Linked DNA regions of Homo sapiens. The protein of the gene in region 1 interacts with the protein of each later gene in a biochemical or structural test. Each region holds a gene or a part of one and is shown in the gene's direction. Other genes may lie near its edges.

The links.
Region 2: the proteins of PCOLCE (region 1) and COL5A1 interact in a biophysical measurement, tested with the Homo sapiens proteins (one study listed by IntAct).
Region 3: the proteins of PCOLCE (region 1) and BMP1 interact in a biophysical measurement, tested with the Homo sapiens proteins (one study listed by IntAct).

The regions. Positions count from the first base shown.
Region 1 is NC_000007.14:100,598,385-100,605,376, forward strand, and holds the start of PCOLCE (procollagen C-endopeptidase enhancer 1 precursor), read left to right. Parts: upstream 1-3,978; 5' UTR 3,979-4,072; coding exon 4,073-4,167; exon of another isoform or gene 4,168-4,782; intron 4,783-5,045; coding exon 5,046-5,154; intron 5,155-5,453; exon of another isoform or gene 5,454-5,574; coding exon 5,575-5,833; intron 5,834-6,706; coding exon 6,707-6,831; intron 6,832-6,992. Other genes in the region: FBXO24 (F-box only protein 24), read left to right, coding at 1,647-1,817, 2,150-2,515. UniProt on the Homo sapiens protein: Binds to the C-terminal propeptide of type I procollagen and enhances procollagen C-proteinase activity. C-terminal processed part of PCPE (CT-PCPE) may have an metalloproteinase inhibitory activity.
Region 2 is NC_000009.12:134,637,312-134,644,888, forward strand, and holds the start of COL5A1 (collagen alpha-1(V) chain isoform 1 preproprotein), read left to right. Parts: upstream 1-4,491; 5' UTR 4,492-4,876; coding exon 4,877-4,985; intron 4,986-7,577. UniProt on the Homo sapiens protein: Type V collagen is a member of group I collagen (fibrillar forming collagen). It is a minor connective tissue component of nearly ubiquitous distribution. Type V collagen binds to DNA, heparan sulfate, thrombospondin, heparin, and insulin.
Region 3 is NC_000008.11:22,168,279-22,175,379, forward strand, and holds part of BMP1 (bone morphogenetic protein 1 isoform 3 precursor), read left to right. Parts: intron 1-5,323; coding exon 5,324-5,437; intron 5,438-7,101. UniProt on the Homo sapiens protein: Metalloprotease that plays key roles in regulating the formation of the extracellular matrix (ECM) via processing of various precursor proteins into mature functional enzymes or structural proteins.

The DNA.
Region 1 (6,992 bases):
AGCGCTAACAGGCTCAGGAGAATGAGGGGGCAGAAGACGCCCTGGGATTTAGCCACTGAGAGGCCAAGTGCCTCTAGAGAGAGCATGTCAGTAATGTAATAGAGAGAAAAGCGAGATCCCAGGGAGGTGCTGGATAGACTGGCTGTGGGAAGGAACAGTAATGTGGTCAGCCTCAGATTGGTCATGTAACCAACTCTGCTGCTTAAGAGAGAGAGGCAGGAAGCGGCAGGAAGCAAGTAGAAGCTTTTTTTTCAAAAACAGGGTGGCCATTTTGGAAAAGAATTATGTGATAAGTTGAAAATGCTAGGCTAAGCATTTCAACTAGCTCACACCTGTAATCCTAGCACTTTGGGAGGCCAAGGCAGGTGGATTGCCTGAGCCCAGGAGTTCGGGACCAGCCTGGGCAACATGGTGAAACCCCGTCTCTACTAAAATACAAAAGAAATTAGCCAGGTGTGGCGGTGTGCACCCATAGTCCCAGCTACTCGGGAGGCTGAGGAAGGAGAATTGCTTGAACTGGAGAGGCGGAGGTTGCAGTGAACTGAAATCGTGCCACTGCACTTCAGCTTGGGCAACAGAGCGAGACTCCGTCTCTACAAAAAAAAAAAAAATGCTAGAGGCTGAGGTGGGAGGCCCGGAGTTCGAGATCACCATGAGCAACATAGTGAGACACTATCTCTATAGAAAATTTAAAAATTTAAAATTTAAAAATTATAGGCACATGCCGGGTGTGGTGGCACATGCCTGTATTCCCAACTACTCAGGAGGCTGAGGCAGAAGAATGGCTTGAGCCCAGGAGGTCAAGGCTGCAGTGAGCTATGATTGCACCACTGCATTTCAGCCTGGGCAACAGAATGAGACCCCATCTCTAAAAAAAGAAAAGAGAAAATAAAAATGCTAGAGTGGAGGCTGGGCTCAGTGGTTCATGCCTGTAATCCCAGCACTTTGGGAGGCCAAGGCAGGCAGATCACCTGAGGTCAGGAGTTCGAGACCAGCCTGGTCAACATGGCAAAACCCCTTCTCTACTAAAAATACAAAAATTAGATGGGTGTGGTGGCAAGGACCTGTAGTCCTAGCTACTTGGGAGGCTGAGGTGGGAGAATCACTTGAACCCAGGAAGGCAGAGGTTGCAGTGAGCCGAGATCGCACTGCTGCACTCCAGCCTTCCGACTCTGTCTCAAACAAAAAAAAAAAAAAGAAAGAAAGAAAGAAAAGATAATACTAGAGCAGGAAGGGAGGGATAGTGGAAGGGAAAGTCCTTCCTCAGGGTGGTGTTGGGGTCTAACCTGGAATTGCACAAGAAGCAAGTCTCCCCGAGGCTGGCAGGCAGGATGAGAGGCTGGACTGGCATAGACGGGTGGGCTGAGAATGAGGGGTACACCACAGCAGGCCCTGGGCTCAGGCAAGGAGCTGATTTTCTGGGGGCATAGATGAGATACCAACAGAAGTGCAAGACCCTATGTGACCAGTTAGAGTATGGGGGCTGCAGGGGTCAGCAGGGCAGACCTGGGGCGTGGGACAGTGCTGGCTCCCATTTCCTCCTCCCCAGTTCATTCTGCCCCGAGCCTTCCAGTCAACCTTTTCCCACCCCAGCCCCCCCGTCCCTTGGTGCTCCCTGCTCAGGGACCCTGGCCGTGTGTCCCCAGGTTTGTTACCTGCAGCGGCCCATCACCCTGTGGTGCGGCCTCAACCACTCCCTGGTGCTGAGCCAGAGCTCAGAGTTCAGCAAGGAGCTGCTGGGCTGCGGCTGTGGGGCTGGGGGCCGCCTCCCAGGCTGGCCCAAGGGGAGTGCCTCCTTCGTCAAGCTCCAAGTCAAGGTCAGAGCGGGGTCAGGAGAGTGGGCACCCAGGGAGGATGAGAGCCATGAACCAGGAAGCCCACAGGCTGTAGCTGGGGCTCCTGCAGGGACCCAGGGGGTCCCATTTCCCTAGCACCACCCCACCTCCCTCCTCTGCCGCACACCACGCTCTCTGCTTTCTCCCTTAGCAGACTGTGCTGGCCTTGCCCAACCTCACACACCCCTGGGACTTAGCCGGCTCAGGGCTGGTGTGAGAGGGAAGAATGCAATAGGCAGATTAGCCCGGGCACCCTGGGAAACCCTGCAAGGAAAGCACCACTCAGCCATGCCCCCTTTCTCTCCTCCTCCAAGGTCCCTCTGTGTGCCTGTGCCCTCTGTGCCACCAGGGAGTGCCTATACATCCTGTCCAGCCACGACATTGAGCAGCACGCCCCCTATCGCCACCTGCCAGCCAGCAGGGTGGTGGGGACTCCTGAGCCCAGCCTGGGGGCCAGAGCACCCCAGGACCCCGGGGGGATGGCCCAGGCCTGCGAGGAGTACCTCAGCCAGATCCACAGTTGCCAAACGTTGCAGGACCGCACGGAGAAGATGAAGGAGATCGTAGGGTGGATGCCCCTGATGGCCGCACAGAAGGACTTCTTCTGGGAGGCCCTGGACATGCTGCAGAGGGCTGAAGGAGGCGGGGGTGGTGTAGGGCCCCCAGCCCCTGAGACCTAATCCCCCTCATGCTAGCCTAGTCCCTGGAGGAGGGAGTCCGGCCCCAGGCCAGGGACTAAGGAGCAATGACCATTGTGCACATGCGTGTGGGAAGGGGTTGCTAGGGGGTGGGGACGGCTAACCAGGGTAAGAATGTTCAGGGGGCTGCCCAGGAGGGGCCCCCAACCTGACTATCATGGACAAGAGATTTGATGGATAGAATAAAAGGCTGCAGCGAGGCCTGGTGTGGAAGCCTTGGGGGCTGGGAGGGACAGGGGCAGGGATGGGGTGGGTGGGTGCCCGGCTTGGTGGGTGCAGGAGGGCAGGAGCCCAGGCAGGGGCAGGCAGCACAAGCAGCTCCAGGTCTCAGGTGCAGCAGAGCTGATGCTGCCTGAACCCTTCACATTGTTGTCCACTCCCTGCTCCCAAGAGCACACCTGGTCGTTTGGACTGGGAAGTTCTGGCCCTACCTTCTGGAACAACTCTATGCACAGATGCTCTTGGCTACCCCACTGGGATCCCCTGCCCACTAGACTTGTCCCCATCCTGAGGCAGCCTGTTCCTCCTGACCCCCGAAAGCTTCCCACCCATCTCCCTTCGGCCTGAAGCCAGCCCCCCTCCTCTCTCCCTTCTGTTTACCTCCCAGGTTTGGGCTCTATTTTCTACTCCTTCCACCTCTTCCTGAGTAACAAGGACACTCCCTTCATCCACACCCCATGCCTCCTGCCTTGCTTCCTGTACCTTCAAGTAGTTGGAAGAGGTCATGGGTGAGAATTCCTTCTCCTTGGCCTAGTCTGGCCCAGGTCTGGAGAGAAGGCAATGGAGATGTGAAGTGGAGGCCAGGTGTGGTGGCTACGCCTATAATCCCAGCACTTTGGGAGTCCGAGGTGGGCGGATCACCTGAGGCTAGGAATTTGAGACCAGCCTGGACAGCATGCTGAAACCCTGCCTCTACTAAAAATACAAAAATTAGCCAGGTGTGGAGGCATGCACCTGCAGTCCCAGCTACTCGGGAGGCTAAGGCACAAGAATTGCTTGAACCCGGGAGGCGGAGGTTGCAGTGAGCAGAGATCGCGCCACTGCACTCCAGCCTGGGTCACAGAATGAGACTCTGTCTCAAAAAAAAAAAAAAAAAAAAAAAGAAATTGAAGTGGAAAATGAGCTGGCAGGGGTGGTCAGGCAGGGGGTGAGCAATGAGGGCTCCTGAGCTGAGGAAGCAGGGGCGGGGGGAGGATGGGGGCTAGGGAGTCCTCAGAAGTTCCCGGAGATACTCCCTCACTGGACAGAGTGGGGTTCCCGATGACGTTACTTGAGGCCTGGGAGACGGCCTCTGCCCCTCACTGCTCCTCCCCCTCCTAAGGTCAACATTTATGTGTCCTAGACCTAGAGAGGTCCCAGGACACGCCACTGTCCCGCCTTCCCCATTGCCCGCCCCACTGGCCAGTCCCCACGCCCACACACCCAAGGCTGCCCCATCTGGCGCTGATTATCCTGCTGCTGCCGCCACCGCTGCTGCTGCTCTGCAAAATTCAGCTGCTGCCTCTGTCTTGAGGACCCCAGCGCCTTTCCCCCGGGGCCATGCTGCCTGCAGCCACAGCCTCCCTCCTGGGGCCCCTCCTCACTGCCTGCGCCCTGCTGCCTTTTGCCCAGGGCCAGACCCCCAACTACACCAGGTAGGTCTCTTGGCATCTTCCAGACAGCTCCAGTGAACTTCAGACCCCCGATTCCTTTGGGGTTATGCCTGGAGATATTTTGGGTTCCCTTGCTGACACACCACTCCCCAGATTCCCCACCGCCTCACCCTTCTCTGGCCCCCAAATCCTCCCCATCTGCTGCAAGACCTTGGTCTCCTGCAGGCCACCACTGCTCCCATTCCCCCACCTTCGTCCTCTGGTCTCTTAAGTCTCCCCACCCACCCAGATCCTTGACCCCCCATAGAACCCAAGAGAGAGCCAAGCTCCTGAACTTGCCTGGTAGCTGGATTCCAGGAAGGAATTCGAGAGGGATTGTAGGGGGAGGAGGGGGCAGTGAGTGGAGACTTGGGAGTCAGAATCTGAAGTAGTTTGGAACAGGGGCAGGGCTAAGGTGTGGAGCTCGCGGAGCCTGGCCTCCAGGTTCAATCAGAGGGCCATCGCCACTGCAGCTCCCTCCATCTCTCCACCCCCTCCCCCCCACCGCCTCGTGGCTGTGTCCACATCTGGAAGTAGTTAGGCGGCTCCTGTCCCTGGACTGCCAGGCAGAGTGAGGCGGGAGTCTGGAAGGGGGGCCGAGGAGGATTCCGGGAATTCCTGTTGGGGTGGGGGTGGGGACTCTTGGGGTTGGAGGGATGGTCGAGTTGCCAGGCCCACTTTTCCCTTATCTTTGTGGGAGTCTGGGACACCCCAGCCCTGTCCTGGCTGGTGGAAGCTGCCCCAGGTCTCTCAAGGCCTTTCCATTTCATCCCCCAGCTTCCCTCCTTGGAGTTTCATCCTCATCACCTCATCCCCATCTTGCCAGTGCTCCCCCGTCCCACCCGTCCCTGCTCTTTCCTGACCCCTTTTCTGTTCTCCAGACCCGTGTTCCTGTGCGGAGGGGATGTGAAGGGGGAATCAGGTTACGTGGCAAGTGAGGGGTTCCCCAACCTCTACCCCCCTAATAAGGAGTGCATCTGGACCATAACGGTGAGAAACCCCTCTGGGCACTACCCCTTGTTAAAGTCTCAGAGGCAAAAAGGCCTGACTGCGAAGGGACCCCCCCCCCGTCCCCCCCGCACCACCTTCTCAACCTGGGGCAGCTCCAAGTGTCTTCCCTCTGTCACTGAAGGCATCATTCCCACCGTAACACGCATCATCTTAACCCTTCCCTCAAATCTTCATTCTCCAGTCCCCGGCCCTCCCTCCTCTTCCAAAGCCTCAGCTCTTGTCCCCTGCACAGGCTACCAGCAGAGCTGCAGAGACCAGGCCCTCTGCTCTGCACTCACATGGAGGCCCCTTCCCATTCAGTCCGTTTCTGCAAGAAACGCTTGGGGCAGGGGAGCTGCCCTCTGGCTGGGTTGTGTGGGGCCTGACTCTGTGGGTCCCCGCCTCTGTCCCCGCTATCAGGTCCCCGAGGGCCAGACTGTGTCCCTCTCATTCCGAGTCTTCGACCTGGAGCTGCACCCCGCCTGCCGCTACGATGCTCTGGAGGTCTTCGCTGGGTCTGGGACTTCCGGCCAGCGGCTCGGACGCTTTTGTGGGACCTTCCGGCCTGCGCCCCTAGTCGCCCCCGGCAACCAGGTGACCCTGAGGATGACGACGGATGAGGGCACAGGAGGACGAGGCTTCCTGCTCTGGTACAGCGGGCGGGCCACCTCGGGCACTGGTGAGAACTCCCTCACCTCCGCCTTCCCCCCCTCCAGGCCCCGCCCCGGCCGCAGCCCCGCCCCCAGCCCTAACCTCCGCCCCGCCCACCCCGCGCCCCAGTGCCTAGGGCCCCCTACCTCCCTGACCCATTTTCCTCACTAACCGCCCCTTCAGTCCCTCCTCCCCGTCTTCTCTCCCCTCCTCCCGCACCCACCCATCCCTCTTCCAGGGCCCCCCCCAGGCGCGAGGCGGAAATGGGTCACCGACCCGCGGGTGGAATGGGCGGCCTGGGGTTACTGGGACGGTGAGTAACTGCCGGCCCCCGTCCGCAATCGGGCTCCCTCCGTCGGGCGCGAGGGGGCACCCCAGGGCTGGGGGGACTAGGTTCCTCCAACCCCGGGGGGCCCCTACACCCAGCCCTGGGCTCCCGATTGCGGTCCCATCACCCCCTCCTGGCGGCAGAAGTCTCCCTTGCAATGTTTCAGGCGGGGACCTCCCTAAAGGGGTCCTCGGGGGCTGTGCCCCAAGTCGAGGACACCCTCTCCAGCCTGAAAGGGGACTCTGCTGCAGGGCCGGGGAGATGGGATCTCCTAGGGGAAGAGGCGCGGTGCGGCCGCGGGTCGGGGAGGGGCCAGAAGGGGGCGTCCAGCCAGTTCCTCCTCCCGCTTCCACCGCCCGCCAGTGCGCCCTGCGGCCCCAGACTTCCCCGAGCCGCGCTCCTCCCGGCCGCTCTCTGTTAACCTGCCCCCATCTTACCTCCCCTTCTTCTCGTCCCCTCATCCTGAGCCCCAGACATCCGAGCTGCCTGCCGGGGCTCCCAGCCTAGAGTTCTCCTGAAGCTGACCGAGGGTCTCCACCGCCCCCCACCCCCGCTCCTCTCTCCCCTCCCCAGAGCACCAATTTTGCGGGGGGCGGCTGGAGAAGGCCCAGGGAACCCTGACCACGCCCAACTGGCCCGAGTCCGATTACCCCCCGGGCATCAGCTGTTCCTGGCACATCATCGCGCCCCCGGACCAGGTACCGACCCTCCTCCCCGGGCTGCCCTAGGGGACCCAGGCGGCGCCCTCCAGCTTGCAGCCAGCAGAGATTTATTGAAGATCTGCTGTGTCCCGAGCACTGCGCTTGCGCTGGTGGGCACCCAAAACAGCCCCAACCCCTGCATGCACGCAAACAAAAAT
Region 2 (7,577 bases), on another chromosome or scaffold:
TGTGAGGGCATGGGGGGATGGTGCCGACTGCAGGCCGAGGAGGGAGGCCTTGGCTGAAACCAGTGCTGCCGTCACCTCAACCTCGGACTTCCAGCATCCAGGACTGTGAGGGAATAAATCCCTGCTGTCTAAGCTGCCCCATCTGTGGCACTCTGCTGTGGCCGCCGAGCTGACTCACACACCCGGGAAGCCTGGTGACCTGGGGCATGGCCCCGGCCCCTCTCTCACCCTCTCCTCTACTCTCCACTTGGCAGACACAGGCTGAAGAAGGCTGCAAAAACAAGGCAATGAAGGACATGCTTTGTCCAAGGGCTTTAAAGTGGCGGCCTTCCCCAAGTAATTTTTCAAAGAGAGTGCTGGCTTGAAAGGGGCTCCCTCCCATCTGCCCCGCTCCAGTACGTAGGGAGAGTCCTGCTGGCTCTGTGGGCACAGCGGTGGCCTCTGGTCTGCTGAGAAGCCACAGCTCACATGGAGCAGTGGTCAAGGCCAATGGGTCAGAAGGTAAACTAGGGCCAGTGGGGGTCTGGGCCCCTGGAACCGGCAGGACATGCGGTCAGCCGCGGGCCGGCCCTCGGACCCGGCGCCTCCTTGGTTTGCTCTGCTGCTGGTGTGCAGGCTGCACGGTGGTTAAGGGCTGCGTTCCGGGCTACTGGGTTTAGCCACACCCTTGCTGTTCAGCCTCCAGCAAATAGTTTCACCTCTCCGAGCCTCAGCTTCCTCCTGCCTCAAAGGGTTGTTGCTCCATTGAATGAGATGATGCAGGTAAGCAGGTGAAGCCCTGGAAGGCGGCAGGGGGCTTGGAGGAGGCAGAAGAGGATGAGTGCCCAGCGGCAGGGAGCAGGGAGGGAGGGGACTGTGGCCAGGCCTCCCTCACCTACCTTCTCATCTGAGCTTCACAGGGACCCCCCAGCGGTCAGTTTCTTCACCGCCCATTCACAGATAACAAACTGAGGCTCAGAGACAGAATCCTCTTGCCCAAGGTCATGTGGCTAGTGGCTGGTGCTGCTGGGATTCTAACGGAAGTCTGTGTGACTCTGGAGTTGGCCTGGTCCCAGGACATCAGCTGAAGGACACAGCTGCAGCCCCAGGTGCCGGATGCAGGTTCAGAGCATTCTCCTTGCGCAGCTAGAGGGAACTCCTCCCCTGCATGGGACAGAGTGGGGCAGCTTCCAGCCCCTCTGCCAGGCCGTGGCTCACCCAGGCCCTCCTGGGCCCACTTCAGCAGTCTCTGGACCATAAATGCTTAGAGGGCAAGCAGATATCTGCCTCCAGGCACTCCAAGAAGACCTTGTTCCTCCACCTCCTCCATGGGTCTAGGAGAAGAAGAAGGGACAATCTGGCTGCCCCTCAAGGCCTTTGTCTTGGGAAGCAGCTGGCCATTTTCCAGCCAGACGTGACTCTGGGAGGCTGGTGTGACCCCTCAGGACTGGTGGTGAACCATCAGGTCCACATGAGAGCAACACCTGATGGTTGCCATGGCCGCTCTGTCCGGACCACAGCTCTGCCGCTCGAAAAATAAATGAGAGGAAACACAGCCTTGGAAGGAGAAGTTGGGCCATCGGACTCCACGTGTAAGGTGCAGGGCACCTGGCCTGCTCCACTCTCTGCTAGGCACTGTGGGAAACACGCAGTGATGGGTGGTGGCGCTCCCGGTGGCCCAGGAGTACACAGGGTACAGGACCTGGTTAGCCTTCTGCGGTGAGTGCCATGAACAGGAGCAGGCAGCCGGGGAGGGCTAGATGGGAAACGATGGATAGCAGAAGACAAGGAAGACACACATGCAAAAAAGGGGCCACCTCTGCATGGGCGTGGGAGTCACTGCTGCATTGCAGGTCAATGTGGAAGGGACCCAGGCACCTTGCTCACCACATACTCCCTAAAGCCTAGAGCGGTGTTGGCAAGGAGTATGCGCGCAATAAGCAGTTTTCCAAGGACTCTGGTTTTGCTCAGTTGTGGGAGGGCATGGAACATGGTGAGTTTGGGACAATCTGCACCAGTTGCTGTTGTCTGAATCTGGGCAGGGTGGTCCTGGCGGCAGGCGTGTGGTCCGGATGCCATGGGGAGGCAGGCAGTGCACACTGGGCTCCAAGCATGGAGACCTGGGTCCAAATCCGGACCCTGTCACGGATGAACTGGGTAAGTCCCCTACCCTCTGTGGCCCCTGATTTCCTCATCTGTGGATGGGAGAGATGCCAGTATTCCCTACCGGTGCATGAGAACTGATGCACGTGTGGGTGAAGAGTGTGAGGCAAAAGCCTTAAGATGTGGCTGATATTCTTAGCTTGGCAACACAGTTCGAATCCTGATTGGTACTGCCGGGCCATTCTGCCATAGTCCCTGGCTGACACATCAGGCCGCCAAGTTTGGGGACTTCTCTCTGAGTTTCCTGGTGGGATAGAAACTCATCTCTCCACCCAACTCAAGGCTCAGATGAGGGTGGAAACTCACATTTGACAGCTTTCCAAGCCACCGCACCACTTGCTCTCCAAGAGAGGATAAAGTGCATCTGTCATGGCTGCTTGAGCTGCAAGACTGAGCCATCTTACCATTGCTGAGAAGTCAACTTTTGGGGGACCTTGGGGTGGTCACTTGAGTGTCAGCTCTTAAGGCGCCAGTTGTGTTAATTCAGGGCAAAGTTTAGATGCTGGCTGTGAGTTACAGGAGGGCTTGCTGACTGGCACGGATGTGCACATGGGACTGTCAGAAAGGAACTCCACTTGTGCTTGGGGAAAAAGAAGCTGGAACCAGAAAGCCTCCACTCTCTTCTGATAACCAGGCCATGGCCTGTGTCAGCACCCCTAGTCTTCAGGGGTGAAGCTGGCCTTGCTGGTAGGGGCGGGGGCACTCCAAGGACCAAGCACAGCTGGGGCTGGCGCGGAGTCTGGGGTTTGATGGAATTTCTCACTCATTGAAGTCCACAGGGAAAGTAAAGGGCCAGTGGCTGCAGGTTAACCAACGCACAGACACGCACACAGGCACACACACAAACACACACATGCACACAACTCACACACATTTTTGCCTGATCACATATGCCTTATACAAGTTGTAAAACAAAATAAAATCAACAAGGAAACAGGTCAGAACTAACATTTGCTTTACTGAATGTATCTCAAGCACCTCCCCACGTCTGTGTGTGAAGAGCTTCTCATTCTTTTCCTGCGAAATATTTGATATCTATGCAAGCGCATGTGGCAGATATGGAGACTAAAAGCCTCATCACCAAGTTAGCAACAGCGACCTATCACCCAGCTCCGGAGCCTGCCATGGCTATCCTGGCAAACCTAACCTCGGACGCCTCTCTCACCTCCTGTTTCCAGAATGGTGAGAATTAAAGAGCATTTGGGGAATTTCACGCCCAGTCTGGAGATGTAACTGGAGAGGGGAGTCCCAGCCCTGTCTGGCATCTCTGGCTAAATTGTTTGTTCAAAGGGAATGGGGATGGCCCAGGGTTTGCAAATCGTTCTTAATTCATTCTGATTCCCTCCTTTTAAAAAACTAGCCCTGCAGCCCTTGGGGAAGGGGTGTGGGTCAGGCTTCAGGAGGCTGTGCAGGGAGGCCAGGCCTGGGGAAGCTGGAGGGAGAGACGCCCACCTACCACCCAGAGACTGGCGGGCCTCCTGCTGGAGGAGACCCCGAGGGGCTTAAAGAAGCCAGGCAGGAGAATCAGGGCCCCAGCTCTTCTCCGAGAGCAGCCGATCAGGAATGCCTTCTCCCTGCGCCAGCTGTCACTCCCAAGGGGATGCCTTCTTTGGTTTCCTTTTTATTGCAGAGGGGCCACCAGGGAGTGGGCAGGAGTGAGGGGTGAGAGCCTGGGGGCCGCAGAGCCAAACTTCGCCTGATTAATAACCCAGATGTTCCCGTCCAAGCACATGGAGGTCCCGGGAGCTCTTGGGAAGTCAGACCCCAGCTCGGTCCCGTGCCAATCTGCAGTTAGGAGGCAGGTCCTCGGTCCGGGTTGACACGTAGGCCACAGTCTTGGGCGCCCTGATCTGGCTGGATGGGAAGTTTAGTCTCCACCCAGAAGAGGAGCTCTGAACTCCTCCACGTTAAAGAAAAAGTTAGGCGGGGTAAACTGCAACTTTCTTTTTAACCCGAAGTGATCAAACCTCGGGGCCCCTCTGCACTGGTTCTTGGAGCATGGCCAGGTGCGGGCACCTGGGGTGGGAACAGTGGGGGGACCAGGGTGGGCCCCTGGGCTCCGAGGCCGCCCCAGGCCCGCCCGCCTACCGGCTCTCAGAGAAAGAACAGGGGGCCGCGCCCGCCCCACGTCCGCTCCGCCCCGGGCCAGCCCCTTCCTCGCTGCGACTCGCCCGCTGTCCCCACCCCCTCGCCCGCGGCGCCCAGTGGGAGGCGGGGGCTGGCCTCGCCGAGCCCAGCGCCGGGCTCTGATTTGCTGCGGGCGTTGGGGATCGACAGCCTCCGCGGCTGCCTTCCAGGAGAGAGGGAGGGAGGAAAAGGGGGAAAAAAGTGCTCCGCGCCGAAGGCGAGGTCCGCACTCTCCGTCCCCGCGGCTGGCGCAGGACCTCACTCGAGCGGAGCGCCCACGGGGAGCGGGTCGCGGGGCGGCGGCGGCGAGGAGGAGGCGAGAAGGAGTTGGAGGAGGAGGAGGAGGAGGCGAGGGCGAGCTAGCCCAGCGGGGTCCCGGCCGCCCCGCGGGCCAAAGTCGAGCCCTCCCGCCCGTGGGCGAGCGCGCCAGCCGCCCCTTCCAGAACAGCCGCCGCCACAAAGAAGAACGGGGGGTGCCGAGGTCCCCATGACCTCCTAAAGTGGTGCGGTCCCTGCTGAGTGCGCTGCCCGGGCCGTGACCCGCGCCCCTGTGCGTCCCCGCGCGCCTCCGAGCGCCCCTGTGCGCCCCGGCCCGCGCCCCGCCGGCATGGACGTCCATACCCGCTGGAAAGCGCGCAGCGCGCTCCGCCCGGGCGCCCCGCTGCTGCCCCCGCTGCTGCTGCTGCTGCTGTGGGCGCCGCCTCCGAGCCGCGCAGGTAAGGGCGCCCCGGGGCGCGGGGCTGCGGGATGGGGCGCGCGCAGCCCGGGCGCCGCTGTCATCCCCGGGCGCCTTCGCCCGCAGAACTTTTCTTCCTTGGCCTGTGGAATGCACGGGCCAAGACCACGAATGCCATTTGCTGGGGGCCCCCCCGAGATGACGACACGCAGACACAATGCCCGCGGGCGCGCCGCCGCCCCCTCCCCAGACGGGCGGGTCGGGTGGGGCTGTCGCGCGAGCCGAGGAAGGACCGAGGGCTGGATCAGCAGGAGGGGTTGTCCACGAGGCGGGCAAACTTTTGTCCCAAAAACCTTCCTTCTCTGTCCCACATCACAGGCGCCCAGCTTGGGCCCTCACAGCCCTACAGCAGAACTTCCTCTGCTCCAAACCGGGCAGGGCCGCCCCCTAGAGTTACAGCCCTTCAAATCCCGGGACTCCTGGGGATGGGGGGAATCCCAGAAGCCTGGGCCCCCAGCACTGAACTTCCCCCAGGCACTGTCACTCTAGGCTGAGCTGGCGCCCTGCTTTCCCCAGGGACAGCGTTTCCTGCAGCCTTGGTCACCTAAGTGTTCGGGGGCACTGGGGACCCCTGCAGGGTGGTAGACAGCCCTGCTCCTAATCCCACCCCCAAACTTCTTGATCCCTGGAAGGCAGCTTTTCCTGGATTCGCTGCTGAGAGATGGGATGCGTGGAGCAAAGCCAGAGATGGGCTTGCAGGCGGGGCTGTGAGTGGTTGGGATGATATGCAGATGTGGGATTCCTTCTGCCAAGGGTCAGCCCTTAGAAGGAGGCTTGCTTCCCGGGGAGGGCGCTTCAAGGCGGGGACTGTCTGCGTCCCTGCCTGGGTTCTCGAGGGTTCAACTCTCCCTGGCGCAGCTTCCTGACGGGGGAGTTTTTCTAGGCATCGCTCTTGGTAGTTAGTGGCGGGGTGGGTTTTCACAGACTCTCGAACATCAGAGCCCCCAGCCCTGGAAGGTCCCCCGAATCCTTATTGACAGGCGGGGAGATGGAGGCTCAGAGCTGTGTGCTGCCAGGTCAGGAGAAGTGGCGGGCAGAGCGATGGGACGGTGGGCTCAGCGAACGTCTGGACCAGCCCGCCGCCTGCCAGCAAGAATGCTTCTCTCTGCTTCACGATTGGAAGACAAGTGGGAAGAATCATTGTCCGTGTTCCGCTTGTCAATTAAAACACTCTTTTCCTTTTTCCCTGGCACGATCAGTGCTTGTTGGGCTAACTGGATGAGCTGGAGTCTGGGTGTGGGGGCTGCCCTGGGGCTCTGGGGGAGGAGCCAGGAGCCTGGCCTGGCTCCCAGGACCTGGGATCTCATCCCTGGGCCGCCACCAACTCTCTCCTGACCCTGGGCTAACTGGGCTTGTGTTTCTCCAGGGGTTAGCTGAAGGTGGGGGACAACAGAGGTCCCCAGAAAAGTGGAGAGGAGAAGGAAGGTGTGGTCAGGGACTGTGCCATTGCCGGGGGACTAGGCCCTGTCTCAGCGCCTCTGGGGACTTTTCCCCAGAAACTCAGGAGGGAGTCCTTCAGGGGAATCGTCACCCTAGACAGCTGGGGCAGGGCACTGCCTGGGGACCATGCACCGGACTGGGCTTGGGGTTCCATTTCCCTCCCTGCCCATCTCCCCACCTCCACACTGTCTTTTTCCCTCTCTGGTTGCCCTCGCTAATCGAAGTGCGGCTCGTTGGAAGTGGGAGTGAGGATGGCCCAGAGCAGCAGGCTATGGAGTTGGACATTTTGCTTTTGTCAGAACAGACTTTTAGAAGCATGTGGAGAGACCACTTTTCTTAGTGAGTTTTGCCAACGTCTCTCCACCTCCCAGGGTGGGACCTATTTGGAAGTCATCCTTCGAGCATGGCCAGAGGGGGCGGCTGTCCACTGGAGATGCAGGCGCTGGGGGGAGGGGGCGGCTGTCCACTGGAGATGCAGGCGTGGCGGGGAGGGGGCGGCTGTCCACTGGAGATGCAGGCGCTGGGGGGAGGGGGCGGCTGTCCACTGGAGATGCAGGCACTGGGGGAAGGGGGCGGCTGTCCACTGGAGATGCAGGCGCTGGGGGGAGGGGGCGGCTGTCCACTGGAGATGCAGGCGCTGGGGGGAGGGGGCGGCTGTCCACTGGAGATGCAGGCGCTGGGGGGAGGGGGCGGCTGTCCACTGGAGATGCAGGCGTGGCGGGGAGGGGGCGGCTGTCCACTGGAGATGCAGGCGCTGGGGGGAGGGGGCGGCTGTCCACTGGAAATGCAGGCGTGGCGGGGAGGGGGCGGCTGTCCACTGGAGAGGCAGGCGCGGGGGGGAGCCACCAGCAAGTGCCTGCTGTCTTCTCCATCTTCGGATCTGCCAGATGTTTTCTGAGGGTTTTCTGAACACAGTTCTTTTGCCTGCTTTCTTTTGGCCAAGTGTGTGAAGGAATGAAAAGTAAGATTGCATTTGGGGCTGCTGAACAGTGTAACGGGGAAGGAGAGTATGGGAAATGAAACATGACCCCAATATTTGGAAATTGAGGTCATCTCCTCTACACGCCATTGGTTGACTCCAGTCACGTGATTGCTTTTTGCAATAATTTGTGGGGAGAGTCGGCCAAGTTTT
Region 3 (7,101 bases), on another chromosome or scaffold:
TTGAGGCAGGCCTGATTTCCTGTATGTCAGGAAATCAGCCAAACCATGAAGGGGGTCCTTCTGCAAGATTCCCAGCACTGTTTGGCTGCCCCAGGTGACTAGCCAACACCCCCCCGGAGAGACCTTGGAGGCAGGAATTGGGACACAGTTGATCCCAAAATCAGAGAAGCCCAGGGGCCTGACCCCACAGGGGTGGGGCTAGAAGCATGTCACACCCAGAGCTGGGTAGTGACCCTGTGCCAGTGAGGCCCCTGCTACCACCTCAACCTCATCTGACAGCCCAGAGTCTGCAGGAGCGGGAGGGGCAGCACTTACCAGCCCACATCCCCATCCCACCCAGGGGGACGCCTGGCCAAGGTTTGGACATCAGAGAGCCATAGAGGATTAGGGTACACCCTCTGAGGTCGAGAAGTAATCTCTCCTCTCACCAGACCACATTCCCCCTCTAGACAGCTGAGTCACCCCACCCACCCAGGCCCCTGCCCCTGAGTCACCTTCTTATTTCAGTGCCGCAAGGGGTGAGGAAAAAATTTGTACTCTCCCTGGGCCCTACATGGGGCAGGGCGGGGCAGTGGGGTTCCCCAGGAAGAAGGGATTCTTAAGAAGTCTAGGCAGGGGGCAGTGGCTCATGCCTGTAATCCACTTTGGGAGGCTAAAGTGGGAGGATCACTTGAAGCCAGGAGTTTAAGACTAGCCTGGGCAACACAGCAAGATGCCCATCTCTACAAAAAAATTTAAAAATTAGCTGGGCATGGTGTCATGCACCCGTAGTCCCAGCTACTTGGGAGGCTTAGCTGGGAGGAGTTGGAGCTCGAGAGTTCAAGGCTGAGTCCAGGAGCTGGAGGCTGTAGTGAGCTATGATTGTGCCGCTGCACTCTAGTCTGGGTGACAAAGCAAGACTCTGTGAAAAAAAAAAAAAAAAAAATCTAGTTTCTCCAGAGATCTGGGGAGAAGATATTGCGGTCGGGGGAGTAGAAGCGCTACTCCTCAGTCCACTAAGAACCTCCTAAGGAGATCCAAGGGAGTCAGCTAATCTCTCTCTCTCCCTCCCTCGCTCTCTTTGTCTCACACAAGTGCATCCCTGTCCATTTCTAAGTGCGCCCTTGTCCTTTGGGGAGTGTGGCCTGTGAAACATGGTGCATGCCTGCAGTTATGTGTGTGTTTGAAAACACAAGATCCTGCACGGGGAAGTGGTTGAGTGTGTGTTTGTGCATATGCGTGGGTGTGTCGCTGCCTTGTAGGCAAGCATGTTCACCTGTGATCGGTCTTCCTGAGTACATGCAGGCATGGAGGCAAACATGCACCTCTGCAGAAGTGTTCACATGTGATGAAGTCCATCCACATGTTTGCAGGGGTTTGAGTGTGTCATCCCCCAGCTAGAAGCTTGCGTTTGTGCAGTGGGACATGCATCAGTCCTGCACATATAGCCTTGGGGCTCATTACACCAGCCAGCCTCCTCTCCCCACTTCCCCAGAAGGGGAGGCCTTGCCATGCCCTGGGGGAGGAGACGGTGGAGTCCAGAGGTTGACCTGAAAGAGTGAGATTCTTCCCAGGCACAAGCACACAGATGGGCTCAGCCACAGTGCTCCTGGCAGGTTTACAGCTGGAAAACAACACAAAAAATTTTTATCTTGTGTTGAAAATAACTACTACCCTGACCGTGACCCCAGGGCTTCCTCTGAGTAAGGAGAGACCTCCTAGACTCCTTAGCATCCAGATTCCCTCGCTTCCCCAGAGGGCAGCCCAAAAGCACAGAGCCCCAAGGCCCAGCTCCTGCCCCTAAGGCTCTCCTGCCCATCTCCTCTCTCCCCACCCCCACTTGGTTCCCACGCATTCTTCAGCCATGACATCCTCACTCCAGGAGCTCAGCAGCCAGGGCCATGCCCTGCCCTGCCTTGCACTTGCTCTGCCCTGGTTCTACACTGGCCCTGGACCCGCAGGCCAGCACAGTTCTGTGGCCTCTGCACCAGGGTTTCACTCAAGGAGGAGTGGGGGCAGAGAGTGTGGGTGAGCCAGCGTTCCCTGAGGAGGTCTAGAGCTGACTTTGAGCTTACGGGTTGTGTTGGGATAATATTAAAGTGGCTGGTGGGTGCGTACCGTGTTGCATGCTCTGTGCTGGGGGTTCGTGTATATGTCTTATTTCATGCAGTAATCCTAGGAGACAGATTCTGTTATGTAGGAGAACACTGAGGCTTAGAAGAGTTTACATGACTTGTCAGCTAATAGTAGCCAACCTGGATTCCAAGACAGGTCTGTCTGACTCCAAAGACCTTGCCCTTTGCTCTATGTCCAAAGGTGAGTCTAAATGTCCAGCCACACCTGTATGCGGTGATGCCTGTGGGTTTGGGTGTGGGAGCCTGCAGGTACAATGCCTGTGAAAGGTATAATATGTGTGTACGGGCACAGTAGCTTATGCCTGTAATCCCAGCACTTTGGGAGGCCAAGGCAGGAGGATCACCTGTGGTCAGGAGTTCAAGAACAGCCTGATCAACAAGGTGAAACCTCGTCTCTACTAAAAAAAAAATACAAAAATTAGCTGGGCGAGGCTGAGACAGGAGAATTGCTTGAACCCAGGAGGCAGAGGTTGCAGTGAGCTGAGATTGCACCACTGCACTCCAGCCTGGGTGACAGAGTGAGACTCCATTTCAAAAAAAAAAAGAAAGAAAGGTATAACACAAGCCTAAGTGTGGAGGCATTCGTGTGGCAGATGCACATCTACGTGAACTTTGGTGAGTATGAACCCACTGCTTCTTCCTTGGAGTGTACCTCCCATCCCATGTCCTTGTTAAGGCCACTCTTGCATGTCACCTGGGAAGCATCTTCTGTTGCCGTCCCATCAGTTGCTGAGCCAAGGCCACCTGCCGAGGATGGCGATTCAAGTAAGAGTAGCTTTCTCATGGGTTGGAAGAGATTTGGGGTCACTTACTGGCTGGTGACCTTGAGTGAGTTATCGCCCTTCATAGGCTCAAGTGTTCTGATGTCTAAAGTCAGGGAGGTGGGCTGGAACCTAAACCTAGCCACTTAGGTTATCTCTCTCTGAGAGTTTCTAATGCTCTGCAAGAGCATGGTGTGGAGTGTGGCTTACTGGGCATGTTGTGGGCAGGCCAGGATTAAATTAATTAATGGGAAAGCACTTTGCCAATTGGAAAGCACCACAAAAATTTCAACATTTACATAAGGTGTCATTATCACGACTATTATTTGCTTAATGGGTCCAGAGCTTGCAGCTGGTTTGTGTATGTTGGAGCTTGTGCATGTGTGTTTTTTAAAAACCGTGTGTGACTGTGTGTGTATTTTGTTGTGGATGTGTCCGTCTGAGTATCTATTTTTGTATATATGTATTTACAGTAGGGGTTCTAGAGAGTGCAGTGGTTGCTGCACTGGGAATGGGGAGGCCTGAGTTATACGTCCAGTTTTCCAGTGACTAGCAGTGTAGGTTCAGTTAAGTTGTTGCTTTTGGGACCTCAGTTTCCTCATCTATAAAATGGAAGTTTGGCCTCGATGACTGCCACAGTCACTCCCACATTCTGTTGATCCTGTCTAGGTGAGGGTGTGTCTCTGGGCATGTATTTGCAAGCCAGAAGAATATCAGCGTGGCAATTCATTCATTCGAACATCCCGGAGTGCCTCCCGCCTGAAAGTGCAGTGCTGGCTGCTGCTTTCATGCGCAAGGATGTGTGTCCCTGGCTTTGATGGCTCTGCACTGGATGGCAAGGGTGTGGACGCCACCATATGTCTGTAGGAACACTAACCTTGGGTGTCTGATTCTGTATGTGATGAAGTCAGTGTGTGTGTGTGTTCACCAGTGAGGCCAACTGGGGAGGAGAAACCTGTGTAGAAGTCTTCAAGGTTAAAACAATTTGTGTAACGCGACCGCCAGGCCTGTATAGCACTCTGCCTGGATGAGAAGCAGATGTTGCTGTGGGTGGAGCTGCAGGGAAGCTGCTGTGGGTCCCACCTGTAGCCCAGCCTCCCACTTCCCCCAGCCCAGCCCAGCTCAGCATGCAGCTCCCATCTGAGCGCCTTACAAAGCGGCCAGTTCTATGGCCTCTGCTTCCTTTTCTCCAGACTTCTCAAAAGGAAGACAGACAGTTCAGCCGGGTCTCTGGAAACATCCCTCCTCAGCTCCAGATACTGGAATCGGAATGGCCCTTTAGGGAGGCTCTCTTCCCCTCTGGCCTTTCTGCTTGGGCAGCCTAAGACTTGGAATAGGAATTACTTGAGAACTGTTAAACTTTTTCCTCCTAGCTGGGAAGCTCCCAGAAGGTATCTTCGTTTCCCAAAGATGCTTATCTGTTCTAATGAAAAATGGTACAATTTTATTTCCTCTTTTTTTTTTTTTTTTTTTTTTTGAGACAGGGTCTCACTCTGTTGCCCAGGCTGGATTGCAGTGGCATCATCTCAGCTCACTGCAGCCTTGACCTCCTGGGTTCAATTGATCCACCTGCCTCAGCCTCCTGAGTGAGTAGCTGGAACTACAGGCATGCATCACCATGTCTGGCTAATTTTTGTATTTTTTATAGAGACGGGGTTTCACCATGTTGCCCAGGCTGATCTTGAACTCCTGAGCTTAAGTGATCCACCCACCTCGACCTCCCAAAGTGTTGGGATTACAGGTGTGAGCCACTGCACCTGGCTTATTTTATCTCATAGACACCCCCTTAGTTAAATTGAAACAGCATTTGCTGAGTGACCACCACATGCTCAGCACACCCTGTTTTATTTTCTTCATAGCTCCCATTGCTATCTGGAAGACCCTAGGTCAGTATTTATTTACTTGCATATTATGGAAGGTTAGCTCCACCGAAGCAGGGGCCTCTTCTGTCTTGCTAATAACTAGGGTATTGTCTGGACCACAGTAGTATGTTAACTAAGTATTTGCTGAAGAATGATGGCTCTGTGGCTCACACCTGTATTCCCAGCCACTGGAGAGGCTGAGGAGGCTGGAGGATCACTTGAAGCCAGGATTTTGAGACCAGCCTGGGCAACATAGCAAGACCCTGCTAATTTTAAATAATTAGCTGGGCACAGTGGTGAGACCCTATCTGCCCCACACTCCCCAAAGAATGATGAGCTAACAGACTGGTAGGGGCTGAGCATCAGCTTTACTGGGATTTTAACTGAAAAGTAAGCATGAGCTTCCCAAGAAATTCTATAAGCTGATCCCTAACTGCCCTTCTCCTTCTCGTTCAGATGGCATTTGAGGATCACAGTCGCTGTGGAGGTTGGGGGCTGGTGCCCACAGGGTTGGGGCTAGAAGCACGGTGCACCTAGGGCTGGGTAGGAGGATTAACTCAGCCCTGGCTTCTTCTTTTCTCTTTAGCTGCCTTTCTTGGGGACATTGCCCTGGACGAAGAGGACCTGAGGGCCTTCCAGGTACAGCAGGCTGTGGATCTCAGACGGCACACAGCTCGTAAGTCCTCCATCAAAGCTGCAGGTAAGCCGGGTGCCAATGGGCCCTCTGTGTCCTAGAAATGGGTTCCAGGCTTAGGGAAACAAGGAATCTCCCTGTTCCCAGCCAGGCCCTCCCAGGACAGAGGCCATGAGTTTGACCCCAGCACATGGGTCTATCTTCCCTCGGGATATCTTCATCCCTTCCCCAGAGGAGTAGTAAATATAGATATCCCCAGCAACTAAGAACTGACATTCTTTTTGTTTACAGTTTAAAAACCACTTTCAAAAGTATTGTCTAGCCTGACTGTCCCCAACCACCTTTAAAGGTGGTGTCAGGACAACTCCTGTTTTACAAGTACAGAAACTAAGATTCACAGAGGTAAAGTGACCTGCCCAGGATCACACAACTAGTGAGTGGCAGAGCTGGGACTGGAACTCAAGCTTTCTCACTCCAGACCTGAGACTCTGCCCAACACTGCAATCCCTCCTGGGCTCTCTGTTCCCACTTTGCAAATTTCTGTGCATCCTCTGAGGCCCATTTCAGGAGCTTCTCCTATTCTTCTTTCCCAGTTGCCCCCGAAACATGACTGTCCCTTCATTTTCCCTGTTTTCTCCCTCCTCTGTGATCACACTGTTACCCTGTCATTTATCACACCATATTGAAAGGATTTGCTCCTATGTCTCCCTAGCTCTTTAAGGTCAGGGATGCTTTCTTCTTATCCTTGATTGTGGTCCAAACTCCTAAAAACCCATGTGGTACTTGTGCATGGATACAGGAATGGGAGGGATGAGGGCCTGGGCTGTGTCTGTTCTTTCCAGTCCCTTACTGCTCTGTAGAAGGGTGAAAGCTCCTCACTGCCAGTGCTGATGTTTGAGACATGGTCCTGAGAGCACACAAATAGCCCTCCCCTTCCCAAAGGGCAGGGGCAGGGATTCTTTCTTCTTTTTTTCTGTCTTTTTTTTTTTTTTTTTTTTTTTGAGACAGGGTCTCAGTCTGTTACCTAGGCTAGAATGCAGTGGCACCATTTCGGCTCACTGCAACCTCTACCTCCTGAGTTCAAGCAATTCTCGTGCCTCAGCCTCCCAAGTAGCTGGGACCACAGGCATGCAACACCACGCCTGGCCAATTTTTTATATTTTTAGTAGACACGGGATGTCACGGTGTTGGCCAGGCTGGTCTCGAACTCCTGGCCTCAAGCGAACTATCCTCCCTGGCCTCCCAAAGTGCTGGAATTACAGGCGTGAGCCACTGTACCAAAGGGCAGGGATTCTTATTGAGGGTCTGCTCTGGGAACACTGTGGTGTGCCTGAAGTTGTCCTGTCCAGCTTGAGGGAAGATCCTGATGTGGGCACCTTATGGAATAAAGTACCCCAGAGGGCAGGTGGCATTGGAGGGTGACCTGGTGGCCTGCTAACAAGTAAGGCTCATGTGACCTTAGTGGGGACTAGTAGGTATGGCACAACGGAAAGCTGCATGGAGGGGTCCCCTGCTAACCCACCAGGTGACTTTGGCCAAACCTTTGGCCTTAGTTTCCTCATCTGTCAAATACAATACGACACTTGTCCACATGCCTTAGAGCTCCTATGTCAAATGCAAACATGAATTTGGGAAATCAAAAGAAGGCATAGAGTTCTGAATGCTCCACAAATGTCAAGGTTTATTCAATGAGAAGGGATATTTTCCTAATCTCAGATCCCCACAATTCC